Regions from separate parts of the Homo sapiens genome. Here region 1 is linked to region 2. The links come from fine-mapping of genetic effects on gene expression. A gene starts in region 2. The other region holds a variant in brackets. All regions are shown on one strand. Distances are between the middles of the regions.

Evidence for each region.
Region 1: its variant is fine-mapped to the expression of PPHLN1 in whole blood (INTERVAL, PIP above 0.99).

What each region holds. Positions count from the first base shown.
Region 1 is chr12:42,351,047-42,359,046 of GRCh38, forward strand. It overlaps PPHLN1 (periphilin 1), which reads left to right. Exons shown (of 10, transcript NM_201439.2): 3 at 839-1,003; 4 at 4,115-4,176. Among named protein-coding and RNA genes, the nearest start is that of PPHLN1, 29 kb to the left of the region's middle. The variant TA/T (reference allele first, on the strand shown) is at 4,703.
Region 2 is chr12:42,322,079-42,331,901 of GRCh38, forward strand. PPHLN1 (periphilin 1) reads left to right here and starts at 4,089. Exons shown (of 10, transcript NM_201439.2): 1 at 4,089-4,151. It overlaps ZCRB1 (zinc finger CCHC-type and RNA binding motif containing 1), which reads right to left and starts at 4,016. Exons shown (of 8, transcript NM_033114.4): 1 at 3,846-4,016; 2 at 1,941-2,026; 3 at 340-368. The coding sequence starts at 2,024. It overlaps MIR7851 (microRNA 7851), which reads right to left and starts at 1,781; the gene lies at 1,622-1,781. RefSeq lists an enhancer at 3,712-3,761.

The sequences.
Region 1 (8,000 bases), 28 kb after region 2:
GATTAGTTAATTCATATTGATCTTATGTTATATCAGGCTTTACAGTTTTTTTTTAACATATATCTCATTTGATATTGATTGATGTGTCATGAATGCCCAAGACCAGATTATGTACAGATATATGTTCTGTAGCTCTCTACTTCTTTCTGTGGATAATCGTTTTTGTTATTTTATAGCAGCTACTAACCTAAGACATATGTTCTCCCTGCGTCCAATTCCCCAAGTCTCACAAAAAACCTACTCATTTTTTAAAACATTAACAAGGTATTCCAGTACTTTGAAAATTAGTTCAAATTTTATATCAGCTTTTATTTTGCTTCTAGACCTGTAAAGCCAATCTCCTCCCTCCATTACTGCTGGAAAAATAGCAAAATGTTTCCTTTTGATCATTCTGGCTCAATATCATCATTAGCTGTTGCTTGTGGGTAAATAGCTTATATTTCTTCTAAATAGTATAGTAGAACAAATATGAGAGCTGTCTTACATAATTTTATTTCTAAAATTGTTAGGCAATTAGGGATAGAGCTACTGTAACATTCTGTCTTAAGTTTATTTTTTACTAAAATGATAATATTGTATTTTTTCTTTTACTTATGATTGGTTTTCGCATTGCTGCATGTCATTTTGAACACCTGGCTTTCTTCGTTGAACAACTTGATTTCCTTTAATCCATGTGAAGACCTTAGTATTAGTTATATTTATGTTATTTCATTAACGCTTTTGTTTATACATTTAGCTCATTCGATTAAGGGTAAGAACTCCTGTGCTTTTTAAAAACCTTTCCAAAACCAAATAGAGAAATTAGTCATTTGTATATATTTCTTTTTGTCTGTTTTAGGATGGCTACAATAGACTAGTTAATATTGTGCCAAAGAAACCACCACTGCTAGACAGACCTGGTGAAGGAAGCTACAATAGATATTACAGTCATGTTGATTACCGAGACTATGACGAGGGCCGCAGTTTTTCTCATGATCGAAGAAGTGGTCCACCTCACAGAGGAGTATGTAAATTTCCCCCATGTACTAATTGTTATTTCTTATAAGTTTAAAATTAATGTAATTTAAAAATTTATGTGACGGCCGTGAAAGCAGTTGAATAAACACTTTCTGCTTGATGCTCTCATGTGAATTGCCTGCTGGAGCTGTCAGATGGGACCTAATAGTCAAGAATCTTGGGGTACTGGACAAAGTAGGTAAGCACTCTGGGTGGCACTATCTAAATGAAATTAATTCCAACCAGCCTGCTTTTTTTATTCCCCTAAATTGGCAGGGATTTGCAAAACCATTTAAAGGTAATCTGTTGTCTTAGTACTTAATAAGTGATGAGCAGGTGGTTACCATTTCTTACTAGATAACCCACTTAATTTTTTTTTTTTTTTGAGACAGAGTCTTACTCTGTCCCCCAGGTTGGGGTGCAGTGGCGCGATCTCGGCTCACTGCAACCTGTGCCTCCTGGGTTCAAGTGATTCTCCTGCCTCACCCTCCCAAGTAGCTGGGATTACAGGCACGTGCCACCGTGCCTGGCTAATTTTTGTGTTTTCAGTAGAGACAGGGTTTCACCATGTTGGCCAGGCTGGTCTTGAACTCCTGACATCAAGTGGGAGGTCACTTGATGATCAAGTGGGAGGCCCACCTTGGCCTCCCAAAGTGTTAGGATTATAGGTGTGAGCCACCACTCCCAGCCTAAAGTCTATTTATTAACTGAGATTAGAAAGCACTCAAAACATCGTCATAGGAAGCAATTTAAAAATGTTAGCTGGCTGGGCATAGCGGCTCACACCTGTAATCCCAGCACTTTGGGAGGCTTAGGTAGGTGGATCACCTGAAGTCAGGAGGTCGAGACCAGTCTGGCCAACATGGTGAAACCCTGTCTCTACTAAAAATGCAAAAATCAGCCAGGTGTGGTGGTGGGTGCCTGTAATCCCAGCTACTTGGGAGGCTGAGGCAGGAGAATTGCTTAAACCTGGGAGGTGGAGGTTGCAGTGAGCCGAGATCGCGCCACTGCACTCCAGCCTGGGCGATAGAGCGAGACTTTGTCTCAAAAAAAAAAAAAGTTAGCTGCTATTATTACTATTACAACTCGCTTCTCTTGAGCATTCTTAATAATGTAGAAGTATGTATTTAATGATGCAGTAATCTGTAGTTGAACTTAATACTATTCTGTGATGGAATTCCTCTGTCCTACCTTGCATGTTTTCAGTATTCCTTAGCTAGGTTGTTTTCCCACCTTTTCTCTTTTTCCCCCTTTCCTACTGTATAATATGACAATTAACAGTACATATTCAAACCCTGTTTATAAAATAATTTGACCTCACATTGGCTGTTGGAATTAGTTTTCATACTTTACGCTTGAAGAAATGGAGGTAAGGTGATTTACTTAGGATCGGTATGTATGGGAGTCTGGTTTCTCTTACTACTGCATCATAGTGACCCCTAACAATTCCAAAGTTGTAATGAGACTATTCAGTGTTTTCTCGTGTTTGTTTCTAAAGTTTGGGGTTTTATAGCTTTCTTAGTTTTCACAGAATTGATTTTTATTTTATTCAGCTTTTGAATGTCATGCTGCTTTTTGTGGTCCTCATATTTATTACATTTTTATTTTATTTCAGTAGCTTTTGGGGTTCAAGTAGCTTTTGGTTACATGGATGAGTTGAATAGTGGTGAAAGTTTGAGATTTTAGTGCACCGTCTCAGTTGTTACCACTTTTATGAAAATCCTATGTGAGTTTTCTATTCATTGGACCAGTTTGTATTTGAAACCTCATGAAAATGATTTTTTTTCTAAAAACTTGTAGCATAATAAAGCTTCAATGGCAGTTTTTTCTAATATTGTTACCAATTGTGTTTGTCTTTATACTTTTGTGTGTATAACATTTTTTCTTTAAATTCTCTTCAAACAAACAACAAGCATACTTGTGATCCTTAAGAGTCTCATGACACTAATTCTTATATAGAGTTCAGTTATGTAATGCAGATTACTTGATTTAATATTTTATTAGCACTGTTAAGTTTTGAATTGTGTTTATATTTAATATTGAGATGGAAAATGATTATATTTTATTTATATAAGAATAGAGTGTGTGATGCTAAAGAGGAAGATGAGGATATTTATTTTAGACGAATCCGTTTTCCTGATACGTAATTTGCATATTGTATTATTCTATGTATAATTTTATTTATTTATTTTTTGAGACAGAGTCTCATTCTGTTGCCCAGGCTGGAGTGCAGTGGCAAGAACTTGGCTCAGTACAACCTCCGGCTCTTGGGTTCAAGTAATTCTCCTGCCTCAGCCTCCCGAGTAACTGGGACTATAGGTGCACGCCACCGTGCCCGGCTAATTTTTGTAGAGATGGGGTTTCACCATGTTGGCCAGGCTGGTCTCGAAATCCTGAACTCAAGTGATACACCCTCCTTGGCATCCTAAAGTGCTGGAATTACAGGCGTGAGCCACTGCGCCTGGCCAATTCTGTGTGTAATTTTAAAGTAATTTGGTGTGGATTGCTATATGGTTCTTTTTTATGTACCTTTGCAAATATGTCTTAGAGAACAAAATGTGCTTTGTTTGATTAATTTTAAATTTATTTAAACTTAAATAAATTTAAATCTTATTCTGATATAGATTATCAATAAGTGACAGTTTCTTATATTGTTTCCAGTTTGGTTTTTAATTGAAAATAAGGTGAGAAAATAAAACTTGAGCAGGAAAAATGGGAAAGTAGCAAGTTTTTCATTGGGCTTGAAACTGAAAATTGGTGAGAGAACTTGACAGAAGGAAAAATGTGAGGTTGAGAAATGTGTGCTTTATTAAATTTAGACTTTGTTCTCAAATAGCCCTTTACTGTTGTGATATTGATATATGTATCTTTGGCAATTAGCTTGTTTGAGTCTACCAAAGAAATAATTTAAGCATTTTAATAGAGATAAATGGTACCACAGGTTCTCAGTCAGTCTACTCTTTCAGTTGTTGAAATGGATGACTTGCTGAATGTTTTTCCCTTTTTATGCCTTTGAAGTTTAGGGAAATTCGGTCTAGTTTCTGGTAGTATTGTTAGATATGTCCCACTTGTCCAAAATAATGTAAACAAATAGCTAAGTAGCTTTTTTATGTTACAGGATGAATCTGGTTATAGATGGACAAGAGACGATCATTCTGCAAGCAGGCAACCTGAATACAGGTAAAAGGATAAAAATAATAGCATAAGTACTTTGATACTTGACTCACTGTGATGTCTGCTTTGGAAATATAGACTCAAGGCACATAGATGAAATATTTTACTGGGATTTTAAATTTTGAAAGCAACAAGCATTATATTCTTTTTGTGACTATGTAGTATAATAGCACTGATAACTAGTGTTCCACATCTCTTGGCATTTTGTAACTCATAAAAAAATATTTAAAAATATTTGGGCCTGGTGCGGTGGCTCACACTGTTAATCTCCGTGCTTTGGGAGGCCAAGGCGGGCAAATCACTTGAGGTTAGGAGTTTGATACCAGCCTGGCCAACATGGTGGAACCCTGCCTTTACTAAAAATACAAAAAAAAAGAAAAAAAAATTAGCTGGGCATGGTGGCAGGTGCCTGTAATCCCAGCAACTAGGGAGGTTGAGGCAGGAGGATTGCTTGAACCTGGGAGGTGGAGGTTGCAGTGAGCTGAGATCGTGCAGCTGCACTCCAGCCTGGGCAACAGAGTGAGACTCCGTC[TA/T]AAAAAAAAAAAAAAAAAGAACTATTGTGATTTAGTTTTGCAATCTAATTATTAAATTATTAATGTGTGGTATGGATTATGAGGTTTGCTTAATTAGTATTTGATTTGATAGGTTTGCTTAATTAGAAAGTAAGGCTTTTTTTCAGAAGTATTCTGGGTTCTTACAAAGTCTATTATAAGGCATCTCAGTTTCTTTAATTAGTGAAGTCCTTTTGGGAAACACATTTTGCAAGGGCCTCAATCGTTGGCTTTGATTACTTACAGAGGGCATCTAATAGAATAGTTGTGGGAAAGAAACGATGGACACATTTAAATTGATTGATAGTTTTTGTTTTTAAATGACATCACAGTGGTGGTATCGAAAGTTGTAAAAGGAGCCTTGTAGAGATTTCTTATGAACTATCAGGGAAAATAACCCCAGTCTCATAGAGAGTGGCAAGGCATCAACTGTCACAACTCCAAAGATGCCAAAAGTAGACAAGATTCAGTGGATCAGAGCAAGACAGATTTTTATTCACAGCACAGCAATCAGCAGGAGGATCAGCATTGTAGTGTAGGTTCCCTGTCCCCAAATCCCACAGGGCGATGTGATAGGCACAGATGGTGACTGTGCACACAGTGGGATACACTGTGGCTGTGGAACCCAGGGTCAAGAGCTTGGTACCTTTTGTAGAAAGCAGAAAGCAAGCTAGTCCTCCTTTCCCTGGGAGTGACCTGCCATAGTAGTCACATTGTGGTCACCTTAACCTATTTAATTGTCTCTGTAACCAGCTACAGAAACTGTTCAGTGTCAGTGGATAGTTAGGTCTTGGAATTTGGCATACATGGCAATTATGTGCAGGGACATTCAGAACCCATGGCAGACTGTTTCTTCCAAAAGAAGCAATAGAATAGATGCCGAAAAAAATGCTTTGATAAAATTAATCACCAAGTAGTTATAAAAATAGCCAGCTGGGAATGGAAAGAGAATTTCCTTGACCGGGTAATTGGGCATTTGCTGTACTGAATGGTAAAATTAGAAACATTTGCTTTAAAATCAGAACAAAACAATGACATCTAGTCACTGCTTCCACTCAACATGGTAACAATGCCTACAGTAAAGCGAAAAATAAATAAGTTGTAGGAATTAGAATGAAAAACGCAACTACTTAAAGATAATATAATTATGCAGAAAATCTAGGAAAGTCTATAGACTGTAAGAACTATTATGAAATTAGCAAGGTCCAATGTAATAAGATCAACTATCAGCATAAATTAGAAAATTTGTTTTCAAAATACTATAGCATGAAAACTGTAATGAGTGATAGGAATAAACTCACCAAAAGAGTATGAGGCCTATACAAGGAAATTACAAATCATTTCTAAAGGAAATAAAAGTGAATCAGAGTAAAAGGAGAATCATGACATCCTTAGCGAGGAAGACTCAGTATCATATAAGTGTCAGTTCTCCTCAAATTAAGGTGGTAATTCAATTTGGTTCCAGTCAAAGATCAAAATTTTTTTTATTTTTTATTTTGCACGGAAGTTGACAAGTTAATTTTAAGACTAATATGAAAGAGTAAAGGGCTAAATGGCAAAAATGCCTTGAAAAAGATGTGAAGACTCAAGATACCATATGTGCATAATTATAAAGCTGTAGTGATGTAAACAGTGTTGTACTGTTGATGTCAAATAGACCAGTGAAACAGAATCTGCAAATAAACCTAGATATATCTGGAGTTTGGGGTACAGTAGCAGTGGCATTACAAATCCAATGGAGAAAGAATGAACTTTTCAATAAATAGTGTGCTGGGACAAACATTTCAAAAACATGACATTGGAAGCTGATATATCCAAATAATATCTGACATAATTAAGACCTATGTGAAAGGCAGAATTGTAAAACACTTTTAAAAACTAGATCAGCTAGTGGCTTATCTTTCTCCTCCAAAGAAATACCTCCCAAGAAATTTATTTTAGCTTAATTGTTTTTATTTATTTATATTATTTTTTATTTGTATAAATTTGATGGATACGAGTGTAGTTTTGTTACATGAATATATTGTGTAGTGGTGAAGTCTGGGTTTTTAGTGTATCCACCACTTGAATAATGTATATTGTACCCATTAAGTAATTTCTCATCCCTCACTCACCTCCCACCCTTCCAAATCTCTGTCTCTCATTCCACTATGTCCATATGTACACATTATTTAGCTTCCACTTATTAGTGAGAAGTGAGAACATTCAGTCTCTGACTTTATGTTTCTGAGTTGTTTCACTTAAGATAATGGCCTGCAGTTCCATGCATGTTGCTGCAGAAGACATGATTTCATTCTTTTTTTATGGCTGAATCGTATGCCATTGTATATATGTACTACATTTTCTTTATCCAGTCATCCATTGACGGACATTTAGGTTGATTCTATATCTTTCCCATTGTGATTTTTCAGTTTGTAAAATAACAGTTTTTATGTTAATTTTAATTTTCTCTTCCTGTCTCTTTTTTATAACATTTTGTGTATGTATATAACATTTTACATAAATGAAATAAAAACATATATATAAATCTCTAATCCCCACAGCCATGATAACATCTTGGTATAAGTTCTTCTATATTTTTCTCTATATTCATAAACATTTAGGGTTTTTGATTGTTTAATTGAGTCTTTTTTTGTTGTTTGTTTTGAGACAAAGTTCTGTCACCCAGGCTTGAATGCAATGGTGTGATCATGGCTCCCTGTAGCCTTGATCTGTCAGGCTTAAGCATTCCTCCTGCCTCAGCCTGCTGAGTAGCTGGGACCACAGGTGTGTGCCACCACACCCATCTATTTTATTTTATTTTATTTTTTAACTATTTTGTAGAGATGAGGTCTCACTTTATTGCCTAGGATGGTCTTGAACTCCTGGGCTCAAGCGATCCTCCTGCCTTGGTCTCCCAGAGTGCTGGGATTATAGGCATGAGCCATTGTTCCCGGCCAAATTGAATCTTTTTAATGGTCAAGTAATAGTCCATGGTGAGGATATGTCAAATAATTTAGCTGGTCACTCTGTTTACAGTACAAAACAGTGCTGCAGTAAATTCTAGTACATAATATTTTCATGAAATAGTACTTTAGTTTTTACGAGATAGGTTACTAGAAGCAGAATTTCTGGGTCAGTGGGTATATATATGTATTTTAAATATTAATAGATGTCAGTTTGCCTGCTAAAAATGGTTTAACATGTGTGTTTAATTTTTTTTAATAAAAATCTTAACATTTTAATTTAGATAATTATTTTTCTTTCTTATTTACTAATATAAGTAGTTTGAAATTTCCT
Region 2 (9,823 bases):
TAGGTTACTTATAGTATACTTGATAACACACTTCCTAGTAACCAAAATATTTGTTTACCATTAGCTATGAGGATGTATCTTTATAGCACATGGAAAGACATTTATGGTATGTCAAATTAAAAAAGAAAAGAAAATTGTATGTATGTAATAGTCTTTAAGAAAAATTGTCTACATGTTTATGTACATGGAAAACCAACTAAATTGTCATAAAAATGTTAATAGTATTTTCTTTATTATATCAAGCATGTTTTATTTTTAAAAATCTGTCATTAAAAAAATGTAGAAGCAAATTCAGATAAACTTTTAAATGAAGTTACAAAATTTAATGTGAATACTTACTTTACAACTTTGCCATACTTGGAAAATATCTGAAACAAAAGACCAAATATTTACAATTTATTTTAAAATCATAAAACATCAAATTTTTAGGTTGCAGACATTGACCAAATTCTTTGTTACAGTTTATGAATAATTTCAGCCTTCAGTCTATAAGACAGGCCCTAGGAAAAAGTTTTTTTTGGTTACTAGAATAATATACTTACTGTTGTTGGAGTCACATGTATCTGTCTGTTTCTAAATTTGACAATGGAGTAAATACAGAGAAAAAAACTCACTCTACACATGTGGTAGATCTAAGGCATACATACTGGACAGCTGCTGTGTTCCTGAGGTATACCCATGGCAACTATCAACTCCATCATAGTGCCAGATACACCTGTGCTTCAAATGTCAATCTTATGGAGCAGCACTTTTCCAATTCTACCCTCACCACTACCTTGTTATTCCTATTAAGCAATCCCTGTTTGAGAAGGCAAATCCTTAGACTGCTTTATTTAAAAAACAAAACAAAACCTCATAAAATAAGCTTTTATAATGAAAAATCCATTTCTATCAGTCTTCTTCCTCTGCCCACCATTAACATGTTGGTGGAACTTTATACTTGGCTCTCTCTTCTGTTACTTTTACTTTATCCTATGCAATCTCATTTATTTCTACAGTTCCAGCTCATTACCCATATACTAAGAGTTCCTATTATATAAAAAGTCTTTTAGAATGTGTTAGTATATGCAACCAATAATAACGAATTTTTTCGTTCTATGATTAAGCTGTATAATGCTGGAATGTAAAATAACTGGATAGCAGTGTTAGCAACACTGGGTTCTGAAGGCCAGTACAGTCTTCTATATAATACTTACTAATGGCTTCTTGTTTCATGCAGAGTGAAAGCCAGAGTCCTTACCATGATGTAAATAGGTCGTATAAGGCACCTCGAGTGGGCTTACCTAAGATTACCCCTCTTTTTCTGAAATGTTTGTCCTCTAGAATTTGCACAGGTGCCTCTTACTCGTTTCAGGTCTTTATTCAAAAGTCACCTTCTCAATAATGGCATTTCTGACCGCCCTATGTAAAATTTCACTTCCATTCCCAACTTAACGTTCAATAGCCCACCTTTCCTGCGTTATTTTTTCTCCTTAGCACCTAACATCTTAGCATCTCCTTAGTATCTAACACATAATTTGACTTAAATGTTCAATAAATATAGCTTCTATTTTTTTTTCTTTTTTTTTTTTGAGACAGGGTCTCATTCTGTCACCCAGGCTGGAGTGCAGTGGTGTGACCTTGGCTCACTGTCGCCTCGACCTCCTAGGCTCAAGCAATCTTCCAACCTCAGTCTCCCAGGTAGCTTGTAGAGGCATGGTGGCACACACCTGTATTCCCAGCTACTTGGGAGGATGAGGTGGGAGGATCACCTGAGGGGGCGGGGAGGCTGCAGTGAGCCATGATAGTGCCACTGCACTACAGCCTCGTGCCTCAGTGACAGAATTAGACTGTCTCAAAAAAAGAAAAAAAAAAAAAGGAAAAAAGAATTTGCCAGGGAGAACTATTTGCTTAAGGTTATCTGTATCTCAAATAGCAGTCACTCGATAAGATTTACTTACCCGGTACAAGTCATTGTTTGTCAGGGAAAAAGGCAAGTTGGATACATACACTGTGCTCTTACTTGGAGCCAATCCACCACTCATTTCTAAAAGTGAAAACAAACTTATCAGCAATCAGTCTAAACCAGGATTCTTTTTTTGTTGTTTGAGACGGAGTTTCCCTCTTGTTGCCCAGGCTGGGGTGCAATGGCGTGATCTCGGCTCACTGCAACCTCTGCTTCCCAGGTTCAAGCAATTATCCTGCCTCAGCCTCCCGAGTAGCTGGGATTATAGGCATCCACTACCATGCCTGGCTAATTTTGTATTTTTAGTAGAGACAGTGTTTCACCATGTTGGTCAGGCTGGTCTTGAACTCCTGACCTCAAATGATCCACCTGCCTCAGCCTCCCAAAGTGCTGGGATTACAGGCATGAATCACCACACCTGGCCTAAACCAAGTATTATTAATTCCAAATAAAACCAATACATCAGACCAGTCTGGGTATTATTTGGAAAAAAACAAAAAACAAAAACCAATAAAGTATTAACAATCACCGATTTAATTATGCCAGATGTGTACACCTTCCTTACATTTTAGGAAGTTAGGAACAATGACTCCAGCAGGCTGAATTAAGGAATTCCTTTTTCCCAGTCACCACTTAAAAAAAATTCTTTTTTGGTTCTTCTTCTTTCAAGTATTCTTTATACCAACACTTTCAGTGCCAGATTGTATGGGTAGGGAGACGGGTTTTGAACAGATGAAGGAAAAACCCTGAGGCTACTCCTAACTTCCACTCAGACCATGAGCAAAAAAAATGCTCTATTGAATATGTACTGTATATGTACATTACCTGCACCTTGCTCACCCAGGTCAGAAAGAGCATGGGGACTCAGACAGAACCTTAGCCACTGATTTTTGCTAATACACAGTCATGCTATGCTTAATGAAGGAGGTATGTTCTGAGTGTTACGTGATTTCACAGTGCAGACATCACAGGGTGTACTGAGACAAACCTAGATGGTCTAGCCTATTGCTCCTAGGCTACAACCTGTACAGCATGTTAATGTAGTGAATAATGTAGACAGTTGAAACACAATGGTAAATATTTACATAGCTAAACACAGAAAACGTACACTAAAAATATGGTACAATGTATTACACTCTTAGGAGACCACTGTGGTATATGTGGTTTGTTGTTAATCAAAAAGTTGTTATGCTGTGCATGCCTGTACTATGGCTGGGTACCTTTTTTGCTTGTCTTAATATTTTTTTTCTCTGGAGTGGTGTGTTAAGAGGAAAATTTTCTTTTCCCCTTTTAGTATGATGTTAAGGAGTAAATTTAAGCTTTATGTATCGACAATATAAACTTCTTTCGAAACGCTAATTTTGCTTATTGCCAAATTATGAAATGATACATTATATAAATAGGCTTGGTGCCTCGAAGAGACAGACCTGTAGGTATGTGTGTATATGTATATAAAGTTTACAAATGTAATCAGTAATTTTCACATCTTATCTTACAAAGTCAGCAAATTACCGTGAAAATATCAGGCTCAACCAAATTCAAATTTCTGATTTAAAAAGAGCGTGCGGTGTGTATTTGAGATGGGAAGATCAACCATCACAAATGGAAAAATACTGACTCTATGGCATGCCAATTCGTGAAGGAATGAGAAAACTGCCTCATGTTTGGTGTTATGGGGGAATTATTTAGAAAACTTCAGGAACTCAACATAGATACGTCGCTTTTTAAGTTTCTCATTTGAAACTATGCGTTACACGTTCTGCTGAGAGCCGCGAAGGCAGGCAGAGGTTAAGGTCCTGGAATAAAAAGGGTGGCGGGAGAGAGGGGCAGAGCGTTTTGGCAGCCGAGTCTGGGGAGGGGGCCCCGCAGGAGAGAAGGCCGCAGCTGAGGAGGCGTTTACCTTCAGGTGGGTTGGGCCTGGGAGACCAGAAGAGTGCGAGCCCTCGGCTCAGCTGGGGCTCAACCCCGACTCTTCGTAGCCGCTCGCAGCGGCCTTGGCATCACGAGTCCTGGGAGGGGTCAGGCGCGGAGAGCAGATAATAGCAGCCACGGTGCTTCTTCCCGACTGTTTGAGATCCGGGCCCCGAAGGCGGGCCCAGAGGCGAGCGCTTCGCTAACGTCATTGCGCGCGCCGGAAGTACCTACCTGGGATAACGGCGGCGAGCGGACGGCTGCATTTACGGGGTCTCCCGGAGGGCCAGAGTCGGTGAGCGCTTTTTACCTTTCCCAGAGATGGATGCAGAGCGTGTGCGGGCTGCTAAACGGGGGGGAGTGGGCGGGAGTTTTCTGTGTCGGGTCCTGGATTCTCCTGCCTTTGAATTGTGTGACAATTCTGCCCATGCGGTTGAGGGTGGAGAGACGCAGTGGAGTTTGGAATAAAGGGAAGTATTGAGTCTAAGATAGGGGTTCGCCTCTCTGTAGCGCCTTAATATGCAAGAAGACGACTGAGCTAGGTAACTTCAGTGACCCGAGAGGAGTCAGGAAGTCGGTAATTTTACTGAAGGTGTTCACGGTACCCAGCTATTAGGCACTTTGGGAACTACAAAATAAACAGACCTTTTATGTTTTGTTTTGTTTTGTTTTCTGGTGAAGATCTCAGTCTAGTTGGGGAGACGAGGTCAACTTGGGGAGAGTTGGATTCACAGAATGACTCATCTTTAGTATGGGTATGGACAAGTGTTGATCTTCTTGGCACCTTTTCTCTTCCTGTAAATCTATAATGGCTACGCACTGCTTTTTCTCTAAGAGGCCATAACATGCCCACCATTCCTACAGAAAAATCAGAACGTAATGCAAGGTAATTTATACTTCTGCCTACCAGCACATACAGACCAGGCCTCTAACCACTCCCTGGGAGCCTGCGTTCCAGCAGCCTGGAACCCACAGCCTCTCCTGGAGCCTGCACAATCAATCCAGAGTGAAGCCGATGTCTTCTATAGAGACGGAAGTACAATCCATCCAGGGCGCAGCTGAATTTTGAGAGGCCTGAATGCCTCCGTGGCCGACAGGAGACCGCTGGCACTAATTCTCTAGGCATACTTGTGGCCAGCCAAACTTACCATGCTTTACATCTCTGTTATCCTTGGTTACCGCCCAAGATGTAAGCTTCTGTGGTCTTCTGTGCTATAGTCTCATTTCCATGCTGCTTTGTGCTTTCTTTCGACTTAGGCTATCACTGCTTCTTCGTTTCTTCCCCATTTAACCCCTCAACACCCCATCTGTGCTTTCTGAAACCTCTATTTCCTGCTTAAACTATTTTACATATTCAACTTCTTTAGTGAAATTCTCCTTCATCTCCTAACCTTAACTATTGATAACACGTAGATTTTCCTGCCAGCCATTTCAGTTGAGCCCTTTCTCTGACCCTGCATTTAAAGGTTGGGCATGGCTGTAGCCATGTTGAACGGATTTCAATTCCTCAGAATACTTTCTTCCCTCAGTATCTTCACAAAGGCTCTTTTCTCTCTCTGGGACATTTGAGCTCCCTGTTTCCTCCTATCTTTTTCTGGATAACTTCTATTAAAGATCTGAGTTTAGCTGTCACTTTACTTGAGGGGTATACCCTAACTTCCATAGAGTTAGGTATTTTTGCTATGTACTCTTAGCTGTCCTGCACTTCCCTCACGGCATTTATCACATGTATCTTAATTGCTTCTTTGCCATCCCTACTAAGCGAGACTGTCGGTGAGGGACTGTGTTTGTCTCGTTTATCTTTGTAACTCCAGTAGCTAATACAGTTCTTGGCACATAAGACAGTCAGTTATTTCTTGAATGATTGCAGGTGCTGAAGGTATGCTGCAGAGATCAGGCAGTTAACGTTAATGAATACTTCACCCTTAGAAGGGGTCACCTGCCACTCAGCTACAGCTGATTGTGGCTATGTGAGAATATGATCCCAGTTTTGCCAGAACATCTAATTTTTTCAAAAAAAGTTGGAAATACCATTTTTTAAAAAGCATCCTCTCCCAGTTTTTAAATGTTGTCAGTGGAATAGAATTTTATTAAAAAAAAAAAAGTGGGTCAAACACAAGTCTCATATGGCCTATCAGTCACTAGTTTGGAATCTGTTTTAAGTCTTGTAGGGTTTATATAATGGGCTTTGTGGAGAATAATAGGTTTTGAGTTGGGCCTTGATGGACCGTTGGATGTTGAATGAGAGAATGGAAAAAGATATCCCGTTTGGAAAATAAACAGCTCCGTGGTAGTATGTGTTAGTCTGTTTGTGGCACAGTAAGGAAACAGGCATAATTATATGCTTTTGGAGAGAATAGAAGGTTAGATATAATAGAAGGAGGCATATGGAAGATAGAAGTTTGGATTTATTATGGTTAATAAAAAACCTCTTGGATTCTTGATCCTGGAAACTTCACATTATGAATATGCGTTAACAGTTGATTATCCTTTTTTAGGGTAAAATGGAGGGTAAAACACTGGAAGGAGGCTGACCGGTTAAGGCCTTAACTTCCATCCATATATGAAATAAAATTCAGATTTATAAATATTATATGTAGGCAGACATCTGGCATTTTTGTTTACTTGTGTAATTTCAGTTAATTGATCAATTATAATGGACAATCAGGGATCTCCTACTAAGTTTAGTGCAGTACATTCGGGCTTATAAAAGAAGTATCCTTAAAGCGTTGGAAAGTCAAGTGACTTGTGAAACTAGTAGAGAATGCAGTACTTTTTATTTTTTTATTTTTTGAGACGGTGTCTTGCTCTGTTGCCCAGGCTGGAGTGCAGTGGCACGATCATGGCTCACTGCAACCTCCATCTCCCAGGTTCAAGGGATTCTCCTGCCTCAACTTCCTGAGTAGCTGGAATTACAGGCATGTCCCACCATGCCTGGTTAATTTTTGTATATTTTTTAAGTGGAGACGGGGTATTACTATGTTGGCCAGACTGATCTTGAACTCTCAACCTCAAATGATCCGCCAGGCTCAGCCTCCCAAAATGGTGGGATTACGGGCATGAGCCACCGCACCCAGCCCCAGCATCAGTTAATTTTTTTTTTTCAATGACCTTAACTAATTATGTTCTAAAATTTATGTTTAGTTGTCTGGAATTTCAATTTTTTTTTTTTTTTGTGTGTGTGTGTGACGGAGTCTCACTCTGTCACCCAGGCTGGAGTGCAGTGGCGCGATCTTGGCTCACTGCAAGCTCCCCCTCCCGGGTTCATGCCATTCTCCTGCCTCAGCCTTCCGAGTAGCTGGGACTACAGGCGCCCACCACCGCCCCCGGCTAATTTTGTTTTTGTATTTTTAGTAGAGATGGGGTTTCACCGTGTTAGCCAGTATGGTCTCGATCTCCTGACTTCGTGATCCGCCCCCCTCGGCCTCCCAAAGTGCTGGGATTACAAGCGTGAGCCACCGCGCCCGGCCTGGAATTTCAAATATTTTCTAATAGAAACATTAGAATATTAATTCACTCTGAATACTGAGCACAGTGTGCAAATTGTTCTAGGAGCTTAATATTCATCAGTGAACAAATAGACATTCCTGCTTTTTATTATTATTAGCATTAATAATCTAAGATACTATATAGTGTACTTTTAATACAGATTAAACCCTCACTACTAGAAATACTACTAGTAGAAATATTACTAGTGAGGGACTAATGTGTATTAAAAGTACATTATGTGGTATCTTAGATTATTAGTGCTAATTAAAGATAGCACGATTGGGGGATCTGTTATAAGTGACATTAAGAAGGTGACATTGAAGGGCAGGAAAGTTAATTCCACAGATACCTGGATGAAGGGTGGCCTGCCCCTCCACACCTGTGGGTGTTTCTCGTCAGGTGGGACGAGAGACTGAGAAAAGAAATAAGACACAGAGACAAAGTATAGAGAAAGAACAGTGGGCCCAGGAGACCAACACTTAGCATATGGAGGACCTGCACCGGCACCAGTCTGTGAGTTCCCTCAGTATTTATTGTTTACTATTTGCACTGTCTCAGCAAGGGGAATGCGGCAGGAGAACAGGGTGATAGTGGGGAGAAGGTCAGCAAGAAAACGTGAGCAAAGGAATCTGTGTCACAAATAAGTTCAAGGGAAGGTACTATGCCTGGATGTGCACATAGGCCAGATTTATGCTTCTCTCCACCCAAGCATCTCAGTGTAGTAAAGAATAACAGAGCAGCATTGCCACCAGCATATCTCGCCTCCAGCCACAGGGTGGTTTTCTCCTATCTCAGAATAGAACAAATGTACAATCGGGTTTTATACCGAGACATTCCGTTTCCAGGGGCATGCAGGAGGCAGAGGCCTTCCTCTTACCTCAACCGCAAGAGGCCTTCCTCTTTTACTGATCCTCCTCAGCACAGACCCTTCATGGGTGTCGGGCTGGGGGACGGTCAGGTCTTTCTCGTCCCACGAGGCCATATCTCAGGCTGTCTCATTGGGGAGAAACCTTGGACAATACCCGGCTTTCCTGGGTAGAGGTCCCTGCAGCTTTCCGCAGGGCATTGTGCCCCTGGTTAATCGAGAATGGAGAATGGTGATGACTTTTACCAAGCAAACTGCCTGTAAACATGTTGTTAACAAGGCACATCCTGCACAGCCCTAGATCCCTTAAACCTTGATACCATACAACACATGTTTCTGTGAGCACAGGGTTGGGGCTAAAGTTACAGATTAACAGCATCTCAAGGCAAAACAATTGTTCAGGGTACAGATCTTTTTTTGTTTGTTTGTTTTTGTTTTTGAGATGGAGTCTCGCTCTGTCACCCAGGCTGGAGTGCAGTGGTGCAATCTTGGCTCGCTGCAACCTTCGCCTCTCGGGTTCAAGCGATTCTCTTGCCTCAGCCTCCTGAGTAGCTGGTACTACAGGCACGTGCCACCACACCTGGCTAATTTTTTGTATTTTTGGTAGAGACGGGGTTTCACCATGTCAGCCAGGATGGTCTCAATCTCCTGACCTTGTGATCCGCGCGCCTCGGCCTCCCAAAGTGCTGGGATTACAGGCGTGAGCCACCGTGCCCAGCCATGGTACAGATCAAAATGGAGTTTCTTATGTCTTCCTTTTCTACATAGACACAGTAACAGTCCGATCTCTCTTTCTTTTCCCCACATCTGGAGAAGAATATTCTGTGCAGGGAATTGCCAGTGCAAAGACCTATGTTCATCTGAAGTTTGAGGTCAATGTGACTTTGCTGTTCAGTAACTCTAGTTGGCTATCAATAGTTGTTGAAAGAATATAAAAAGCGAAGGAATGAGTTTTGGTGGGGAGGGGAAGCTATTTATCCTGAGTGTATTTAATAATGGAAACTGACTAGATTGGAATGCAGAGTTACTATAGCCTAAGTTGCTACTATAACCAGTTTGGTTAAAATGAAAAAACAGATCCATTATCTTGACTTTGGATTCAGAGTGTTAATGGTTTGACAGAAGGATATTGCCTATGACTTTGTTTTCTCAATTTCCATGACACTTTTGCTTAGAGTGCAAGTCCTCCATAATCTCTCAGCCCTCAGTTGAAGTTAACATAACAGTGGTTGGATAGCCCAGTGGAGTGCTCTAAGAAAGGCTTCTTTTCTTTCTGGAATTAAATATCCCATGATGGTATATTAAACATACCGTCTTCATTGAATATGGCATAAGAGAAAGAGATTTTTATAATCCATAACCAGTTATTAGCGCACTTCTGAATGAAGCTTGTATTCTCCACACTGAGTTCTAATTCTGTTCTTTGCCTAATTGTGATGTAGAGGGTCCTTCTATTGTTCTGTTGATTCTTCAGTTTGAATATCTTGTTGGCTTAGATAACTTTTCTGGAGTACCATCGAAACTGCACTGATATGAGGAGATGTAGTGATGATGTGGCAGGTAACATGATCACTCACTGGGAGTCTGAACACCTTTGTATAAATGTAACTGAT